4 linked regions of the Homo sapiens genome follow. The protein of the gene in region 4 purifies or fractionates together with the protein of the main gene of each other region. This does not show direct contact. Each region holds a gene or a part of one and is shown on either strand. Other genes may lie near its edges.

Region 1 (2,664 bases), on a different chromosome or scaffold from region 4:
TGGTAAGCAGCTCTAGCAGGAAAATTACTCTTGAAATCTGAATTTAAAAGAATTTCATTTTTTTAATAGAGAAGAGTTGAAAAAATAAAGATCAAGTGAAAATTTTTATTTTAGTTTTCAGATATTCTATTGTTATTCAATATCTACAATTAATAATCTGGCAAATATTTCATATACTAGTCAGTTCTTAGATATAAGCAACATTTATTTTTATTTTTTTGAAACAGAGTCTTGCTCTATCGCCCAAGGCTGGAGTGAAGTGATGCGATCTCAGCTTACTGCAACCTCTGTCTCCCATGTTCAAGAGATTCTCCTGCCTCAGCCTCCCGAGTAGCTGGGATTACAGGTGTGCACCACCATGCCTGGCTCATTTTTGTATTTTTAGTAGAGTCGGGGCTTCACCATGTTGGCCAGACTGGTCTCAAACTCCTAATGTCAAGTGATCCACCCACCTCAGCCTCTCAAAGTGCTGGGATTATAGGTGTGAGCCACTGCTCCTGGCCTTAAGCAACATTTTAAAAAAGAGGCTCACTATCAGATTTGTTTGATAAAATATTTTGCCATATGATTCCTATGATAGTTAATACTTTTTAAAATCTCTTAGCTTTCTGGCAAAAAAAAAAAAAAAAAAAAAAAAGAAATACATACCCTAACATTTTGATCTTGTTTGATGTGAATGGAGTTTTGTTTTTAAAGTGATATTTATAAACTATTTATCTAAATAGGGAACAAGTGCCCATCTCCAGAAATTTTGGCAAGTACTTCCTCTGCCAACTTTGGTCTTTTCTAATAATTTCTTCAGGAGAGAATAAGTAACGATGCTTTTTCCAAGTTATACCTTTGCCTCATCCCATTAGGTGTTGGGGACACCAATTTTCCCTACTATAACATCAATGTTAATAATAGCTAACATTTACTCAGTGCTTATAACACACCAGCATCTAAGTGCTTTACATGTTGTACTGACTCATTTAATCATTCCAACAACCCTATAAGTTAGGAGTATATTATCTCCATTTTGCATATGAGAAAACCAAGGCATAGAAATATTAAGTAACTAACTAATGAGTCTGAGAGAGCCAGGATAAAGATGGTGGCTGCACCATACAGCCACAGTAAATAAAATCTATGCATAAAAAACTTGTTAGGAGAGTTTAAAAAGCCTGAGAAGGATTTAATGAAATTAAGCTTTTGAAAAATGGATATGTAGGATTTCAGTATATTGTTTTAGGGAATGCAATAGAAATGTCTTAGAACTTTTTCATGGGGGGTATACAACATATTTCCAATCAGATTATTAATTCTTTTAAGATCTATGACCATTTCTTTAGCATCTCCTACCACTCTTAATTCATAATGCACATTCATTAATGTGACCAGATTTCTTTCTTTTTAAAAATGGAAAATAGGAATAAAGCCAAATTACTTACACTGTTTGTAGATTTCATTGACAGTATTGAAGTCATTTATGTCAGCCAGAAGAACAGTTGTTTTCACCACTAGAAGATATAAACATTGTCATTAGGTTTAGTTATTTGGTCTGACCCAAAACATTACTTAGAAAAAGAGTGTATGAATCTGAGACTGTCTTGATTAAAATGGGACTGAAATGGGACCAAAGAAGTGAAGTAGAACAGTTGCTATTTAAAACAACTTTTAAATAGCAACAAAGATATGGCACGGCATCTTACTGGATGCCATATATTTTTCAAAAAGACCAAAGAAATATCAAAAAGAAATGTGAAATAATATCAAATTGCTCACCGTTAGTGAAGTCACAGCCTGCAGCTTTCAGAATTTCACCCATGTTTTTAAGAGCCTGTGAACCAAGCCAAGAAAGGCCTAAGTCACTGATGTTAGATTTAAAGCTTTAATTAAATTCAATTAATCATCTTTTACTAATACCTCCTTAAATAGCCTATGTTGCAGAAAAATCCTCCCTACTCGCTTACAAGTGTGTTTCTTGGCTTTCCTTTAATAGAATGAGTCTTTCTGATATATGGTGAAAATGTTGTCTCCTTTTGTGCGTAAAAAGACTAGGTTGAAGTTCCTTCTTCAGTGCTAAAATGTGTTAATTGTTCAGCCAATGTCCACAGAAATAATTTCTGGTGTTCTTCATTCGATATCACGTCAAGGATAAGGATGAGCTAGTAAGCATTAAAACATATTTTCTTTTAAAGCAATATTTGACTTCAAAGGGTTCTTTTTCCTTTTTCTCAAAAAAACAATATTAGTAAATTATATAACAGTTGGAGACACTGGCTTCTGGAAAAACATTTATCTTTTTTTGGATTCACTCTTCCCACTTTGCTGGTCACAATGCAATATTTCATTATATTCTTGTGTCTTTTAAAATAATCTTCTAAATAGGTAATACATGGATATGGCAACAACAACAACAAAAAAACTCAAAAGCTATTAAAAAAGCATATACCGTGTAAAGATATCTCTCACCCCTCTCTCCCTCTCCCAAGTTTCCCTCCTCAGAGGTAACCACTGTTCCTAATTTATTGTATATCCTTCTAGGTACAGTCAATGCTTATGTTACATATTTTTAAACACACAAGCACACATGGTAGCATACTGTGCATGTTGTTCTGCATCTTGGTTTTATTACCATGGAACAATTTACCTCGGAGATCTTTCCACATTACTTTAGTTGTA
Region 2 (3,500 bases), on a different chromosome or scaffold from region 4:
CCTCCCTCTAGGCCTCAGCACATTCCCAAAATGTGCTCCACAAAACACTTGGTCCATGGGGGTCTTTGCAGAAACGGGGTTCCATGGCCCAATGCGTGTGGGAAACACTACATGGCAGACCTTGTCCTTGAAGATGTGCCATGCGTATTAGAGCATTCAAGGCTCTGAGAAGTTCTGCACGGGAGGAGTCCATTTTGCTTTAACACCACACATGCCAAATTTCCTTGACCATGAAACTGTTTCTTTGTGGGAAAACTTTAATATGCCAACAAGGTCCAGCCCTGCCTACGTCTCAGCCCGTCTTCTCCTACCAGCCCTCCTCCCTCCCTACTCATGGGCCTTGCTTTGTTTCTTCAAATACAAGTTCATTCCCACTTCTGGTCTCTGCATTTGCACTTGCCTCCGCTTACAGCTGCAATGCCCGACACGGCAGCCACCAGCCACGACTGGCTACTAAGATTTAACTTAATTAAAATGAAAGAAAACTAGATAATGCAGTTCCTCAGTCGCACAGGCCACCCTTCAAGGGCTCCATGGCCATGTGTGGCTGGTGGCTGCATATTGGAGAGTGAAGGTACTGGACGCATCCCTCATCACAAAAAGTTCTACTGGGCAGTGCTGGTGCCTGAAATGGTTCATCCACCTGACTTGTGGCTGGATCCCCTCTACCTCCCTCCTCTTTCATAATGGCCAGGGGAGGGGTCCCTGGGGCCACACGGGAGGAGGAGGTGAGGCAGGCCTTACCTCCAGCCAGGCGTGGGAAGGTGTGGAACCGGTCCAGGTTCTGGGCCACCTGCTTCCACAGGTGTTTGAAGGTGCTGGAACCACAGGAGAAAGGGTGGGGTTCAGGGAGCCAGGCCAGAGGAAGGGGGCGGAAAAGCCCAGGGAGGAGCATTGCCGGGGGCAGCCCAGCAGGAGGTGGGAGCCAAGTCGGGGATGGCGGCTGGGAACAGGCTGCATTCCAAGACTACGGGGAGCGGGCAACGGGGGGCTAGGCAGCAAGATGCTGCAGAGGAGGTCCATGTTCTGCAGCCAGGAGGACACTAAGGGCTGTGTGATCCTGGGTTCATTACTTAACCTCTCTGAGCCTCGAATTCTGCACCTCATCTGGGAAACAGGGAGAACAATCCTGACCTGGCAGGGTTGTTTTGTGATGAGTTCAAGTGTGAGGCATGTGCTTAAGACATGCTGGGCACACTGCAGGTACCTGGCAGGGAACAGACCCCGCTGTGGTCTGCGAAGGATCCCCCCCAAGCCCAGCGCCCAGGCCTGAGAGGCCAAACCGAGGAGAGTCCTGGGAGAGGGAGCTCAGGCCCCGCCCGAAGCCACCACCCTGGAGGGCCTCGCCTCCTCCCCAGGCTCCAAGTGTGACCAACCTCAGCACCACAAAACAATAAAAATGCTAATCACCCGGGAGCCAGCGACACAGTAGCTAATACTAATTTATGGCCTTCCCACCTTTAAGCCCGCTGCTCATCAGAGCGTGGAGAATGGGGTCCAGGCCCGCTCCGCCCGCTGATAGGCGGGGAGCCCAGGGGCCCGTGGCTGGCAGAGCAGGCCTTTTGGAAAACGGCCCTTCTCAGCAGTTCTAACGCTGCCACCACCCACTCCCACCCCCAGCAAAGCTGCGGGGAAGGGGGTGGCAGAGCCTGGGGCCTGGAAGAGGAGGTAAGAAGGACCCTGAGCTGCAGACCCGGGCGTCTGGCTGCCTCCAGGCATCTCCACCCAGATAACACCCGAAGTGACCAACAGGAGATTCATCTTCCCCCGAGCCCGCTCGCCCTCCCAGGTGCCCATCTTGAACATTCTCGCTGACAACCCCCCTCATCCCCACACGCACCCCAACCCCAACTCCAGGACAGGCAATGGCCACTGTGCCTCCCTGCATCCTTCTCACCTGAACCTGCCCCCTTCTCCACATCCCCCATCTCTCCCCTGGTTCAAGCCCCTACCACCCCTCCCTGGAGGTCAACAGTCCCTGGCCAGTCTCCTGCATCAGGTCACAGAGAGATCACTGAGAATGAGGGTGCCAACACAGGGGCCCAGAGGAGCCAGCAGGGAAAGGAAACAGCGTGGATCAGGTATGCAGGGAGCCAGAGGGCACCCACCCACTTCCAGCCAGTGGTACCACCAGGAAATGCAAGATCAGAGCATCCAGGTCCAGGGGACCAAGACAGGCCAATATTTGGATTTATCTATGAAATTGTCCCAATTATACAAAGTTGGGCCATCACTGTTAGGAGTCAAAGAAAGTAGAGCCTCTTGCCAGATCCAATTTGGGGGCCATTATTTGCAATCTCTGCCTGACACAGAACTCTGACTCAGCCACTCTCCCTGCTTGAAGCCTTCCATGGCTCCCATCACCTTCAGGATAAAGGCCAGACACCTTTGCAGACTCCTAAGTATCTTATGGTCACTGAACCACTCCCTGCCGCCACCTCCAGCCTGAGAGCCGGGACCTTGTCCCTGGTGTGTGCTCACCACTGAGCCTTAGTGTGAGCTCCAAATTTCCTGCTCAGCCAGTGAGTGCATGGATGGTCGAGATCAGGTAGTGGCCTGCCTCCCCTACCTCAACTCAAACCATGCCCTGCCCTCACTCTCTTGCCCTGTCGCCCCCAAACTCCACACTCCAGCCACACAGGATCCTGCCATGCCCCAGAGCACAAGTTTTTGGCTTGGCAACATTGTATGTGCTATTCCCTCTCCCAACATATATATTCTTCTCCTGCCTCTTCCCCTCTGCCTGGCCAACTCCTCTGCTTAGATGTCACCTCCTCCAGGAAGGCTTCCTGACTCCTCCAGTTCATTCTGTGCTCCCCTGTGCCCTTTCCAGTAGCAGAGGTAGCACTGAAATCAATATTACCCACAGCTGTAGGGTGCACTTCCAGTCTGCGAAGCTCTTTCCTGTTCATTAACATGTTTAATCCTTGCAATGACTCTGCAAATTAAGGATAATCACTCCCTGTACAGGTGAAGAAATGGAAGCTCAGAGAGGTGAAGTGGCTCACTCATAGCCACACAGCAAGTAAGGGAGTAGAGTCCGTGCATGACCCCTGGGTTCACAGCCCCATCCCCAGGCAGACAGCAGGTGAGCAGGTGAACGTCCCCTAGCCACCACAGCCTACACCATCCCCAGGGACTTACGGCACACTGCCTGTGAAGTTGATGCCACAGAGGTGCTCTGAGCTGGTGACAGTGTCCCCAAATAGGGGCCCATCAGCTGGCACAAACTGGATGATGTTGGGGGGCAGGCCAGCCTCCCGAAGGATGCGGTAGACAGCATAGCTGGCCAGCATGGCAGTGTCACTGGGCTTCCATAGGACCACGTTGCCCTGCCCGGGAGGTGTTTCAGTGATGCATGAGGATGGCGCCACCAGCCCCCAACCCCCACCCCACCCTACCCTACAGCATGGTTGTCCCTCACCTGGAACCACCAGACTCTGTGCCAACCAGGACATCCCCTACCCGACCCCACTCCTCCAAGGCGTCTGGCCCTATCT
Region 3 (3,500 bases), on a different chromosome or scaffold from region 4:
AAGATTTGGCTTAAATATCAGCTACTCTGAAGTTTCTTTCATTAGTCTGGACAGAATTTAGCTGCTTCTTAATACTGTAGTCCCATAGCACTTTGTAAAACCTCTGTTATTACTAATCTCACGGCCCACCCCCAAAAACTGAGCTCCCATAGGACAAACCATGGTCATAGTCATCTTTGTATTACAGTACCAAGTATATAATGGCAAGTAGCCACTTAGTACTTGTTGAATGGATGATCAGTTTCTAAATCCAACAAGATTCTATGGCTAAAAAATGCCATTGTTCCTCAGATGTAATGGGAAAACATGGATAGCACTGCTTTGCTTTTTTTTTTTTTTTTTTTACTTTTTTTTGAGACAGAGTCTCAAAAGGCTGGAGTGCAGTGGCATGATCTCCGCTCACTGCAGCCTCCACTTTCCAGGCAAGAGCGATTTTCGTGCCTCAGCCTCTCGAGTAGCTGGAATTATAGGTGTCTGCCACCACACCCAGCTAATTTTTGTACTTTTAGTAGAGACGGGATTTTGCCATGTTAGCAAGTGTGGTCTCAAACTCTTGGCCTCATGTGATCTGCCTGCCTTGGCCTCCCAAAGTGCTGGGATTACAGGCATGAGCCACCACGCCTGACCTGCTTTGCCATTTAGATAGGAATCCTAAAAATATCCTAATGTTCTCTGCATCTAGTTTATATTTCTCAGAATGGGGTAGTGGTCCATTGATTGGTCCCACCTTGCTTATTCTATTTTGCCTTTCCCTGTCTGCCCAGCCCAGTGACTGATTATGCAACACAAACCCTAGATCTCCTTAAGCTTCAACATCAGACTCACTATTCTCACAAAGATATTTTCCATGTTATGAATTTTTTATCTAGTCTGCACAATGCTGTCTCAAGTTTTTTTATATATTGCTTTAGAATTAAAACTAACAATCTAATTTCCGTACCACTAGCCACCTCTTTTCTTAACTTCCTAATTAGTAAAACACTGTTTTTCTAGCCTGCTATAGTCATCTTTGAGTCCATGTTTTTCTTTTATCATAGGGAGTATTCTGTATGCTTTGTCCTAGCAGTTGGTTATTTACTAGTTTTTATTGATCTAATCTATAAAATGGCCCTTTAAAATGTTTCTTTTGTCTACTTTGTTCCTTCTCATTTCCATTGTTACCATTCAAGTCCAAGACTTTATTACCTCTTAACTAAATATTCCAGTAGCCTAAATGTTTTCATCTATAGCTTCTTTGTCACCATCATCCATTCTGAATATTGTTGCTACATCAGTGCCATTTTCTTGCATGAAAAGTTTCCAGTGGTTCCTCCCAGCAAACAGAATCAAGTCCATATTCTTTAGCTTGGCATTCAGTGTAATAATCCAAGATTTAGTTACAACTTTGTTTTAACTCATCTATTATGAAAACCTTCCTCTGTAGCAAAACCGGTTGTCTTATTGTTCCATTGAACAAGCTTTGCTCATTCTTGGCTCTATACGAGTAATTCTCAACCTTAACTGAACATCGTAATTTCCTTTAAAACTTAAAAATACACAGAATCTCTGAGTCTTAGTCCTGGACATCAATGTTTTTCTTTTTTTTTTTAAAGCTCCACAATGAATGTAATGAAGAGTCAAGGCTGGGAACCCCTTCTCTGTTCCTTGGTGGTGTTCCTTCTTACCTGAAATACCTTTCTCCTTCGTCTTTGCATGCTAATTTTTACATTTTTCTCTGAGCTCTCCAGCTGACTTTGAACTTTTTCTGTTTCAACTTTCTCTATTACTTATTTCTATGCTACTTACCCAGTGCTAGAGTACAGGTTACCTTACATTATTTTTTTTTTAGATGTGTATCTTTCCAAATAAGAACAATATCGGCTGGGCACAGTGGTTCATGTGTGTAATGCCAGCACTTCGGGAGGCCAAGGCGGGTGTATCACTTGGGGTCAGGCATTCAAGACCAGCCTGGCCAACATGTGAAACCCCATCTCTACTAAAAATACAAAAATTAGCCTGGCGTGGTGGGATGTGCCTGTAGTCCCAGCTACTCAGGGGGCTGAGGAAGGAGAAGCGCTTGAACCCAGGAGGCAGAGGTTGCAGTTAGCCGAGATCACACCACTGCATTCCAGCCTGGGCCACAGAGCGAGACTCTGTCTCAAAAAAAATAACAACAAAAAACAAATAAGAACAAGATGATAATGGTTTCTACTTCCTCATAGAACCAAGAACAGTTCCTTTTACTAAGTAAATATCTGTTTATCATTTTGTCAGTTTGAATAATTCTTTGTTTCATATATCCCTTGTTTTTGTACCTGGTAGAGTGGAATAAGATTTTATTAAATGTTTATTGATAGAATGAATAAAATAGATCTGCTTGAGTGTAATAAATGTGTAAGTGTAACAGACTTTAAATTTATTTACTTCTTTTTTATTTCTATTTATTTATTTTTTTTTTTGAGACGGAGTCTTGCTCTGTCGCCCAGGCTGGAGTGCAGTGGTGCGATCTCAGCTCACTGCAAGCTCTGCCTCCCAGGTTCACGCTGTTCTCTTGTGTCAGCCTCCCGAGGACCTGGGACTACAGGTGCCTGCCACCACTCCCGGTTAATTTTTTGTGTTTTTAGTAGAGACAGGGTTTCACCGTGTTAACCAGGATGGTCTTGATCTCCTGACCTCATGATCCTCCTGCCTTGACCTCCCAAAGTGCTGGGATTACAGGCATGAGCCACCGCGCCTGGCCTTTATTTACTTCTTAGTATATTAACATTCAGCTTTCAAATTTAGGTTTTTATAAAGCAATTCCATTTCTTTTTTTGTATTTTCCTTAAAAGATTTAAGTGACAAAATTTGGAGAACACATATACTTAGCTTGTATTTGTGATTAAATAGGATTTAATCAAAGATCTCAAATCAGAGTTAAGTGGAAATATGGAAGAACTGATCCTGGCCCTCTTCATGCCTCCTACGTATTACGATGCCTGGAGCTTACGGAAAGCAATGCAGGTACTACTATATGTCATTTATTATGAATATTTTGTCCTATTTCATATGTAAAACCGTACAAATTATGACAGTTCTGAATTTACAGTGGTAATTAAAGCAATTCTTTATTTCACATCATCCATCTGAATATATAGTTTTTAGTTCTACAGAACAAAGAAATATTTGACGAAGATTTAATTACTTGCAGAAATTTCATTTTTCTTTGTATAATCTTCCCTTCATTTCATGTAGGGAGCAGGAACTCAGGAACGTGTATTGATTGAGATTTTGTGCACAAGAACAAATCAGGAAATCCGAGAAATTGTCAGATGTTATCAGTCAGAATTTGGACGAGACCTTGAAAAGGACATTAGGTCAGATACATCAGGACATTTTGAACGTTTACTTGTGTCCATGTGCCAGGTGAGTATAGTATGAATGCTTGTGCGTTGATAGAGGGAACATACTTTAAAAGCCTTTTGCCAGTGAGCATTCTTTATTCCTTTTAATATTTAGCCACCTTGCAATATTGCCATCTT
Region 4 (4,297 bases):
GAGACGGGGTTTCACCATGTTGGCCAGGCTAGTCTCAAACTCCTGACCTCAGGTGATCTGCCTGCCTTGGCCTCCCAAAGTGCTGGGATTATAGGTGTGAGCCACCGCGCCCGGCCAAGATGCTGTTCTTCTATAATAGTTTCCTTTGAGTAGGCTCTAGCCTGGAAAGAATATCCTGGCCCTGGAAGGGTCTTATATAAAGATCTTAGCCATGTATCCAGTAAGGAAGGCAGCCCTGTCCTGCCCCAGGCCAGAAGCCAGCGAGCCTAACTAGGGCAGAACTGCCTGAAAACTCTCTGTAGAGGTGGGCGTTGGGGGCCTCAACCCTCACTCTGCACCCTGCAGCAGGCGTCTATGGAGGGGGCCACACCAAGGGCAGAGCAAAGTCCTTAAATGTCTTTAACAGGCCTGGTGCCTTTGCCTCCAGGTAAGGAGAGAGACTGGGGACATTCTGCTTTGTCTCTCCCAGAGACTTGAGTGTTGAGGGGGCAGAAGTATGGCTCTGGGAGACGAGATGCCCACAGACTCCTGGACCTAGCTCTGCATTAATTCCAGGCCATAAGGGGAGGGCACAGCTGAGCACTTTCCATGTGCCAGGCAGTGGGCACTCCACATATGTCATGCCACTAACAACTTTGGGCAAGCCATGCCTTATCTGGGCCTCAGTTTCCCTAGCTGTTAAACGAGGTAAGTTGCATGATCCCTGAATGATCTATGTTTCTCTCTCCCTCTCAGGGTTCTGCCAGCCCCGGGATCTGTGTCTCTATTGGAGCAGTTCTTACATTCATTCATTCATTCAGGATACATTTATTAATAATCCCTGTAGGCTGGGCACCGTGGCTCACATTTGTAATCCTAGCACTTTGAGAGGCCGAGGCGGATCACTTGAGGTCAGGAGTTCGACACCCGCCTGGCCAACATGGTGAAACCCCATCTGTACTAAAAATACAAAAATTAGCTTGGCATGGTGGCGTGCACCTGTAATCCCAGCTACTCGGGAGGCCGAGGCAGGAGAATAGCTTGAACCCGGGAGGCGAAGGTTGCAGTGAGCCGAGGTCGTGACACTGCACTCCAGCCTGGGTGACAGAGCGAGTCTCCGTTTCAAAAAAAAAACAATGCAAAAACAATCCCTGTGTGCAGGATGCTGTGCTGTCCTGCACTATGCGAGCCTGGTTAGAAGAGCTCATTAGATAGCACCTTTCAATCCCTCCTTGTTCAGAGGCCCAGAGAGCTCAGGTGTCTCTTCCAAGGTCACACAATGAGGTAAGGATAAATTTGGAACTAAAACTGAGACTCCCTGCCCTTCTGATGCCCACTGGCCTCAGTCCCAGTGGGCACACTTGCTCGCCTCCTGCCTGGGTCTCTGACTTCAGGAGGGCGGAGGGGGCCCGTGTCAGAGCCTTCCGCGCCCCAGCGCATCGCTCCCTACTCCGCCTCTCGGGATCCTTTAAGAGGCGGGGCTTGGCTGCCAGCTCCGCGGCCCGGGCAAAAGGCTGGGACTTTACTCCGGGTGGCGGCGAGGACGAGTCTGTGCTCCATCAGCTGCCGCACCCGCCGCCTCCCGCCCCCAAACCCCATCCCCGCGGTTGAGCCACGATGAGCGGCAGAGTCGGCGATCTGAGCCCCAGGCAGAAGGAGGCATTGGCCAAGGTGAGCTGTAGCCCTGGCCCGGGCTCCCGCCTCGGGCTGTGGCCCTCGCCCTCCTGCGGCAGCGAGAAGGGACGGGGCTGGGTGGGGGCCGAGGGTCCGTGGCGGGCGGCGGAGGGAACAGAGGCGGCTGTCCCAGCCTGGCCCGCGCCCGCGGATGGCTCCTTCCTCCCTTTGCCACCCTCGAGGTCCCAGGAAGTTTGGCCACCCCCCGCCCAAGCTCTGAGCAGCCGTGGCGGTGCCACCTGGGGACAAGTGGTTGCTTGTGAGTCCCCGGAGGCCGCTGAGGGCACAAAGGCAACATTCATCCTCGGGACTGGCAGCCGGGCCCTGGGGCAGGGGCAGGGGCAGGGGCCCAAGTTTCCTCCCATTTCCGGGAGGCTTTCTTCTTGTAGGGTCAGTGGCACGATGGAAAGGGCTCTGGATAGCTCCTTGGGAGACTTGGATAGCTCCTGCCCCGGCACCAAGCCGCTGTGCGACCTTGGGCAAAACCCTGCCCTTCTCTTTGCTCCTCGATGCCATGGAATGAGGAGGTTGGACCAGATGATGTTGAAGGGAACACCTCCGTGTGTGAATTCCAGGCTCCCCCCATGAGGCACTGGGTTGGTGTTAGTTTGAGCTGAGACCAGCCGTCCCCTATCTTGCATCCCAGACCCCTGCCTGGTTCAGGACTTAAGGTTTATGCTCCTCAGAAGGCAAGAAGGTGAGCCTGGCTTTGCCTTGGCATCTGTGACAAGGAGGGGGCAACAGTTTGAGGGCGGGACCTTCCTCTTCACGAACTAAATCTCTTATCTGTCACCCCTGGGGAGTGAGGAGGTCGGCTCTTCTCTGGGCAAGAGCCGATAGGGTCTGGCCCCAAGATTTGGAGGCTCCACAGCTGGGGAGTTTTCCATGGCTGGGAAAGGTGGGGCGGGGGGCAGATGTATCCTGCCACTGGCAGCAGTGGGGAGGCACCAGCTCCATAAAGCCTCTGTCCCAGGCTGGGCCTCCCCCATCCCAGGAAGGCTGGACAGGGAGGCTTCAGATTTTACTGCTGACTCGCAGGAGAGGTCAGGCAGAGAAGGGATTAGGTGGTGATTAAACTGGAGACCAGGGGCTGGTTAGGGTCCTTGGAGAGGGGTAGCTTCATGCCTGCAGTTTGGAGGAGCAGTTTCCCTGGTGCACTGGGAGCTGCTTTGTGGGGTGGGATGGTCTGAGTCCCTGGCTGACCTAGGCAAGGGGCAGAGGTGGCCAGTCCTCATTAGTGTCCTCTGGGACTGCCCTCTAGGTCAGTGGTCAGGGAAAGGTGAATGGCTGGGAGCAGGAGGCTCAGGGAGGGCATATAGGGGCCTGTTCGCCTACCAGGGAGTGAGAGGTTGGAGGTAGGTGTGGCTGTCCATTGAGGTCACTGTCCACCTCCTTTGTTTGGCACTACCTGCACTTTCCCGCTTCCTGGCTTCCCCTACTGGAACTGTTCCCTCCACCTGAGTTGCCCACCTCTCTCCCCCGCTGCCTTTGAAGTCCTTCAAGCCCAGCACAAATGCCATGTTTTATAGGAAGCCGTGTGAGACCACCTCTTTCTTCCCTCTGCTCCCCAGCAAACTCCTCATCCTTCCATGGGGCAGAAGACCATGGTGGAAAGAGTGTGTGCTCTGGACTCAGACAGACCCGGGTTTGCATCCCAACTCTGCTAATGACTAGCTGTTTGACCTTGGGCATGTTACTTAGCCTCTCTGAGCTTTAATTCCTTCATCTGTAGAATGGGGACAATACTTCTACGGGTTGTGAGTGAGGAGTAAATAAGCTATGGTGCCAAGATCAGCGCTGAGCGACAGGAAATGCTTGGTAAACTGACAGCTTTTACTGCAGTCCGTATCAGAGTGCCTACTATCACGATTAGCTGGGAACACATCTGCCTGCCCGCAGACTGGTGTGTGGGAGCCCTTGTTGTGGGGCAGGGGCAGTGTCTCACTCCCTTCCCACTTCCTGCCCTGCAACCTGGCACCCCCTGACAAGACAGTGCTCCAGGCAGCATGAGTGCCCAGGGAGTGTCTGCAGAGTTGAACTATGTTAAAGAGAAGTCCAGTTGGCCGGGCGTGGGGGTTCATGCCTGTAATCCCAGCACTTTAGACCGAGATGGGCGGATCAGGACGAGGTCAGGAGATCAAGACTACCCTGGCTAACACGGTGAAACCCTGTCTCTACTAAAAATACAAAAAATAGCCAGGCGTGTTGGCAGGCCCCTGTAGTCCCAGCTACTTGGGAGGCTGAGTCAGGAGAATGGTGTGAACCCGGGAGGCAGAGCTTACAGGGAGTGGAGATCGCCCACCGCACTCCAGCCTGGGCGAGAGTGCGAGACTCTATCTCAAAAAAAAAAAAAAAAAAAAAAAAGAAACAAAGAAAGAGGCGTCCAGCAAAGATCTCAGTGGAGAGTCCTAGGCAGAGGGCAGCAGTCAGGGCGGGCCCTACCACTCACCCCGATGCCTCTCCCTACAGTTTCGGGAGAATGTCCAGGATGTGCTGCCGGCCCTGCCGAATCCAGATGACTATTTTCTCCTGCGTTGGCTCCGAGGTGAGGGAAGAGGGGCTGCGGGAGGCTGGGGCAGGGGCTTGTTCTGGGCAACAGAATAGCACCCTCTGAAAACCCTGCCCTTGGCAATTGAGGCATCTA

What was found. The genes of interacting proteins can lie anywhere in the genome.
Region 1: the proteins of SEC14L2 (region 4) and RIDA fractionate together in Homo sapiens (co-fractionation; one large-scale study listed by BioGRID). This does not show direct contact.
Region 2: the proteins of SEC14L2 (region 4) and ALDH4A1 fractionate together in Homo sapiens (co-fractionation; one large-scale study listed by BioGRID). This does not show direct contact.
Region 3: the proteins of SEC14L2 (region 4) and ANXA7 fractionate together in Homo sapiens (co-fractionation; one large-scale study listed by BioGRID). This does not show direct contact.

The regions. Positions count from the first base shown.
Region 1 is NC_000008.11:98,104,508-98,107,171, forward strand, and holds part of RIDA (2-iminobutanoate/2-iminopropanoate deaminase), read right to left. Parts: intron 1,820-2,664; coding exon 1,765-1,819; intron 1,500-1,764; coding exon 1,431-1,499; intron 38-1,430; coding exon 1-37. UniProt on the Homo sapiens protein: Catalyzes the hydrolytic deamination of enamine/imine intermediates that form during the course of normal metabolism. May facilitate the release of ammonia from these potentially toxic reactive metabolites, reducing their impact on cellular components.
Region 2 is NC_000001.11:18,878,556-18,882,055, forward strand, and holds part of ALDH4A1 (delta-1-pyrroline-5-carboxylate dehydrogenase, mitochondrial isoform a precursor), read right to left. Parts: intron 3,333-3,500; coding exon 3,145-3,332; intron 819-3,144; coding exon 745-818; intron 1-744. UniProt on the Homo sapiens protein: Irreversible conversion of delta-1-pyrroline-5-carboxylate (P5C), derived either from proline or ornithine, to glutamate. This is a necessary step in the pathway interconnecting the urea and tricarboxylic acid cycles.
Region 3 is NC_000010.11:73,383,059-73,386,558, reverse strand, and holds part of ANXA7 (annexin A7), read left to right. Parts: intron 1-2,868; coding exon 2,869-2,982; intron 2,983-3,213; coding exon 3,214-3,384; intron 3,385-3,500. UniProt on the Homo sapiens protein: Calcium/phospholipid-binding protein which promotes membrane fusion and is involved in exocytosis.
Region 4 is NC_000022.11:30,395,521-30,399,817, forward strand, and holds the start of SEC14L2 (SEC14-like protein 2), read left to right. Parts: upstream 1-1,497; 5' UTR 1,498-1,596; coding exon 1,597-1,650; intron 1,651-4,122; coding exon 4,123-4,198; intron 4,199-4,297. UniProt on the Homo sapiens protein: Carrier protein. Binds to some hydrophobic molecules and promotes their transfer between the different cellular sites. Binds with high affinity to alpha-tocopherol. Also binds with a weaker affinity to other tocopherols and to tocotrienols.